Linked DNA regions of Homo sapiens: region 1 is linked to region 2. The links come from fine-mapping of genetic effects on gene expression. A gene starts in region 2. The other region holds a variant in brackets. All regions are shown on one strand. Distances are between the middles of the regions. Region 1 overlaps SLK (STE20 like kinase). Region 2 holds the start of CALHM2 (calcium homeostasis modulator family member 2).

The links. PIP is the estimated chance that this variant, and not a neighbour inherited with it, causes the effect.
Region 1: its variant is the best candidate, but not a certain one, in a credible set for the expression of CALHM2 in CD8 T cells (CEDAR, PIP 0.58).

What each region holds. Positions count from the first base shown.
Region 1 is chr10:103,985,605-103,988,517 of GRCh38, forward strand. The region is part of intron 1 of SLK (STE20 like kinase); the gene reads left to right. Among named protein-coding and RNA genes, the nearest start is that of SLK, 20 kb to the left of the region's middle. The variant T/TC (reference allele first, on the strand shown) is at 1,087.
Region 2 is chr10:103,451,036-103,453,897 of GRCh38, forward strand. CALHM2 (calcium homeostasis modulator family member 2) reads right to left here and starts at 1,335. Exons shown (of 4, transcript NM_015916.5): 1 at 1,121-1,335; 2 at 48-250. It overlaps CALHM1 (calcium homeostasis modulator 1), which reads right to left. Exons shown (of 2, transcript NM_001001412.4): 2 at 2,205-2,862. LOC124902494 (a long non-coding RNA gene) reads left to right here and starts at 1,408. Exons shown (of 2, transcript XR_007062275.1): 1 at 1,408-2,201. RefSeq lists enhancers at 8-377, 326-946, 947-1,568 and a silencer at 1,407-1,736.

The DNA.
Region 1 (2,913 bases), 530 kb after region 2:
TTTTTTGTTTGTTTGTTTGTTTGCCTTTGATTGACTAACACCTCTGTGGGACTGAAATCATCTCTGTTTTCTGTGCTGGTCTTTCAGTTTCCAGCTAAAAATTTTATTAAAATATATTCTTCACTATGAAATACTATATAATGTTAGAAAATGTAAAAATATAGAAAGAAAATAAATGAAGATTTAAAAATTATTCCTGTACTCACCACCCAGGGAATACCTTCTGTTCAAACAAGAGTAATATGAGGGTGTAATTTTTTTAGAATATGAAACCAGTATGGAACTTTCAGACAACTTATGTTTCCCAGTATCCCTCATTTGTTTATGTAATGTGGCCAAGCTCTACTGATGATTCATGAAAATAAAAACAGTGATTTTAGGTGATCATGACTGATATTTGAAATCTTTTTATCAACAGAAGTTATATTTTTAAATTAAGATTGGGATTTGTTATTCCATTTTTGTTTTTAACATTTGTTTAGTTCAGTAGTGCCCATCCTCTTTGGCACCAGGGACTGGTTTCATGGAAGACAACTTTTCCACAGACTGGATGCGGGGATGTTTTGGGGATAATTCAAGTGTGTTATGTTTATTGTATACTTTGTTTGTATTATTACTACATTGTAATATATAATGAAATAATTACACAACTCACCATAATATAGAATTAGTGGGAGCTCTGAGCTTGTTTTCCTGCAACTAAATGTTCCCATCTTGGGCTGATGGGAGACAGTGACAGATCATCAGGCGTTAGATTCTCATAAGGAGCACACAACCTAGATCCCTCACATACGCAGTTCACAATAGGGTTCACAGTTCACGATAGAGTTCATGCTCCTCTGAGAAGCTAATGCTGCTGCTCATCTGACAGGAGACAGAGCTCAGGTGGTATTGTGAGCAATGGGGAGTGGCTCTGAATACAGATGAAGCTTTGCTTACTTGCCTGCTGCTCATCTCCTGCTATGCGGCCTGGTTCCTAACAGGCCGTGGACTGGTACTGGTTTGTGGCCCTGTGGTTGGGGAACCCCGGGTTTAGTTATTTCATTAAGCCTTTATGTGAAGAGTTTTTTTTTTTTTTTTTTTTTT[T/TC]TCCCTGAGACAGAGTCTTGGTCTGTTGCCCAGGCTGGAGTGCAATGGCACGATCTCGGCTCACTGCAACCTCTATCTCCTGGGTTCAAGCAATTCTGCTGCCTCAGGCTCCCAAGTAGTTGGGATTACAGGCATCCGCCACCATGCCTGGTTAATTTTGTATTTTTAGTAGGAATGGGGTTTCACCATGTTGGCCAGGCTGGTCTTGAACTCCTGACCTTGTGATCCGCCCGCCTTGGCCTCCCAAAGTGCTGGGATTACAGGCATGAGCCACCACGCCTGGCCTATGTGAAGAGTTTTTATGCCTTTAGATATTAGGTAGATAAGCTCTTTTTTAAAAATACTTTATGTCCCAGTTATATTAGTGTAGAGAATAGTGTCACACACTTGTAAATATTTATTTCAGTTTTGTTTTTTTAAAGTTTTTTAGAACTAGATCCTGATGAGTAATCATGTTATTTTCAAGCAATAATTTGAGGCACTATTCTTTTAATGTAACTTTTATTATTTATATTAAACCAAATGATATCATTGTTGGTATAATCAATATATGACAGAATTTGTTACTGTGAGGAATTTTAGAGGTTATCTAGTGTGAGTTATTTTTCTTCCTTCATGCCAGCCCATTCACAAGTATAAAAGATACATCTTTAAAATCTCCAGGACATCAGTCAATTAATTTTAGTGGCTGCGTCATTTTTCATTGTAGAACTGTACTGCATGATTTAAGCAGGTTCCTGTTAAGTGACATTTAGGCTGATTCACTTTTTCACTATTGCAAATGGTGCTTTGATGAGTATTTTTGTATGTGCATGAATTTTATTTTATGAAATTATCTCCTTCTGATAAATTCTTAAAAGTGAGATTTAGACATTTATTTATTGAAACATTTATTAACTTTAAAAAATTTAGTATCTGTTTTTAATGTAATAAGTGGAGTTTTGCTGAAGTGATGTTAATATACATCATAGTGAAATGTCTTATAAAAACAACCTAGTTAGCATTTTAAGATCTGATTCCTAACGTTAAAAATGATCCTAGTATCTACTACATATTTGGAAACCTTTCATTTATAATAAATGATGGTGAGAAGTTAACCAAAGAAGGAAAACGAGAAAGTTAAAGTACTAAGAACAAGGAAAAATGACCAAATGATAGAAATATGGGGAGACTGGAAAGGGTATAGAGGAGGCAAAACTTTGCCTCCACCCTCTTAGCGTCCCTGCTGGGCCCGAGAATTAAACTGACACAAGATAGAGTAGAGGAGAAAAGCATAGACATTTAATATAAGTTTTATGTGACATGGGAGCCCTCAAAAGAAAATGAAGTCATAGAGAAATGGCAAAACCTACATGCTTTTGTGTTAGGTTGAAAGAAGAGAGGCGATTGTAGAAAAGTAGATATGTTATATGGGGAGGCTAAAGGAAGATGTTTAATTTAACAAGGTCTGTTTGTACACAATTCTCTTGACTGTGACTCCCTATCAAAGAATGTTTCTTTTCTCCTGGGATAGAGAAGACGTCTTTTACAGGAACATTTTCATCTCCTAGTTTCAGGAAGAAAAGGTGGAAGATTAGAATGCCCTTCTTGCATCTGCTATTTTTCAAGTGCCTTTCAAACTCAAAGTGATCCTTATGTCAGAGTGGCATGTTTGAAGTGGTGTATTCTGCCACCCTTCACGGGTAATGATTATGCCTAGTGTTCCATTAACGGAACGCTAAGCTTGTGGGGGTTATTTATATCCTACTGCCCAAGGTAATTGCCAAGGTCTGATTTTTCACAAAAAAAATTTGCAACCTCTAGCATAAATGGGTTAATTTCACACAC
Region 2 (2,862 bases):
GTGATTCTGCACTAAGTGAACCCTCTTTTTTTCTGTCTCCTACTGACCTTGCCGTGTCCATCCACGGGTGTCCCGAAGAACCTCCTCTTCCGCAGCCGTGACCCCTCTCCTATCCAGCAGCCTCCCAGCAGCTCCGCTCCACCCCGCCTGCCAGCAACAGGAAGCCCTGGTGAGACCAAAGGCTCAGCGGTGCCACCAGCTCATCCGGAGATTATTCTGCCTTGGTCTGGGCTGTAGCGACGCTGGCAACCTGCCGGGAAGTGGCCATGGCCTCGGGCAACAGCGAAGTTTAGCCCAACTCCCTTCCCAGCCTCCACCCACACAAGCCTGAGAGACAGGCCAGGGTGTGGCCCCATGTCCTCCCCCTCTGGAGGGTGAAAAACAAAACTCCCCAGGCCAGAGGAAGCCAGGGAGTGGAGGGATGGGGTGAGCGCCAAACACAGACCTAGCCCTGTTCCCTTCCATGCTTCATGGAGGGATCACCCCTTCTAGATCACCCCTTCTGTCCCTGCCAAGGAAGGCTGCCAGATGGGCTCAGGCAGAGCCATGTGGCCATGCAGACTCCAAGAAAAGGAGAAGCTGGAGGAGGAGGACCAGGAGGAACAACAGGAGGAGGAGGAGGAGGAGGAGGAGGAGGAGGAGTCTGATTCTTCCCCCACTTCACAGCCTGGAGCTTCCAGCCTAACTTCCTGGGAAAGGCAGTTTGCATCACTGCTGGGGAAGAATGGGTTAAAGTCAGCCCCCTTTGCCCCATCCTTTTCCCTTCTTGGCTTCTAGGCTCCTAATTAGCTCCCTGTGGAGGCCCTGGGTTCATAAACTGGCTCAAAGTGGGGTACAAGATACCTGCACAGGGTGGGTGGTGAGCAGAGGATGGGCCAGGCCATCTTCTGAGACCACTGCCCCCAGGCCAAGGATGGGTCACATCCAGACCCCCAGTGGGACCTCCTCCAACATCAGTGACGACAGGAGACTGGCGGCTCGGGGAGGGGCAGGACTGCTCCCTGTTCAACCGGGTGGAGGGAACCTCAGCTAGGGGCCTCTCTCCCTCTGGGCAGCGTGGGACAGGCCCCACCATGCTCCGCTGACACCTGGCACACCCCAGGGAGGGCCCCTTCCTTACCTGGGGCCAGCTGTGGGCACTTGTGGCCATGGCCTCCTCGGGGCCGGACTCTCCAAGTGGCCTCCAGGAGGGCGGTGCAGGGCAGCGGCGGCCTCCGCCGTTCCCTCCCGCTTTTCTTCTGCACGGGGGCCTGGGGCTGGTGGCGGCTTCAGACTAATCTAACTCCAGAAAAGAGAGAAGAAAACAGTGGGATGGAGTCTGCGCGCCAGTGAGTGGAAAAACAGCCTCCCGGCGCCACCAGGCAGAGGAGGGCGGGCCCCGAGGGCGGCGCGAGAGGAGAGGAGCCGAGAGGAAGTTGAGATGCCTGTTCTGCAGCTGCTGCGCGTCCCACCGACCCGCTGCTCGCCGTCCCTGGGCCGTGCTGGCCCTCCGCCCTCGGCCCAGACCCGGACCGGGCCATGCTCCACACCAATGGGACCAGTCGGGAGGGCCACGTGGGGATGTGGAGGCATTGGGGAGATCTGACCCAGACCTGCCCCCCATGACAGTTTCAAGAGCACCCCACGTACTTGACCCCCGCTGGGCAGAAGCTACCAAAGGAGACCCCGCGAGGGTCAAGGGAGGGTGTCGTCAGGCCCGCGCTGAGCCCTGCAGGATGCTCAGGGCCAGGGCCCCACCCTCTACTGGCCCTTCTCCCTCAGAGTTGTCCATTGACTGGACAAACCATCCCCAATGCTGACTCTTTGACCTATAGTCAGCTAACTCCCCGGGACCTGCTTCGGATCCCTGGAGGGCTGAGGATTGAATTCAGGAGCCTAGGGATTCTCCGGGTCCTGCAGGCAGAGCTCCAACTGGTGGGTGAAAGTTACAAGGAGGCAGGTTTCTGAAGGAAGCCCTGTGTAATAATCAGAGCTGCCCAGCCTGTATCTAAAAGTGGTCAAGATGCGGGCTGAAGCGTCACGGGTCAGGAATGCTGCACAGGAGAGTCTACGGACAGGCTAGATGACCCTTAGCATGGAGGGAGAGGACCCCCGACATCTGTCAGCTCTGCAGTGCTCGTGGTTCCGTCATGGTGGAGCTGCCGAGTGACCCGCTGGCCTCCCTGAGCTGGGCTTGACCATATGTACGAAGGAAAGAAAAGGTACCAAGTTCTGCTTGTTTATTTGTTTGTTTCAGATCCCAGCATGTGCTAAACACAGTCCCAGATCCTTCCCTAAAAGTTATCTTCCTCTATCCTTACCACAATCCTGAAAATCAGGTCTTTTTTAAAAAATAATTTTTTCATTTTAAAAAAATTATAAATCTTCTCTTTATTCTTCTTCTTCTTCTTATTATTATTATTACTTTACAGAGACAGAGTCTTGCTATGTTGCCCAGGCTGGTCTCCAACTCCCAGGCTCAAGTGATCCTCCCTCCTTGGCCTCCCAAGTGCTGGGATTACAGGCATGAGCCACTCCGCCTGGCCAAGCAGGTCTTCTAATATCCATTTTATAGACAGACACACTGAGGCTTAGAGTGGCTGGGTGACTGGCCACAAGTCCTGCAGTGCTGGTATTTGAACTCAGGTGTGCCTGACCCAAAGCTTTGCTCTTCATCACATTTGTACCTCCTGATACCTCCGGGCCTTCTCTTCCCACTGGAAGTGCTGCCACCCACCAACATACACCTTGTTTTTTGCTCATCCTAATCCTCCCTGACTTCAGGGCCCATACCAACTCCTACCTCCTGGAAGAGCCCTCCCAGCCCACCTTGGCCCACAAAGATCTGAGCAACTCCTCCCAAATAATTAAGAGGAGGGAAAC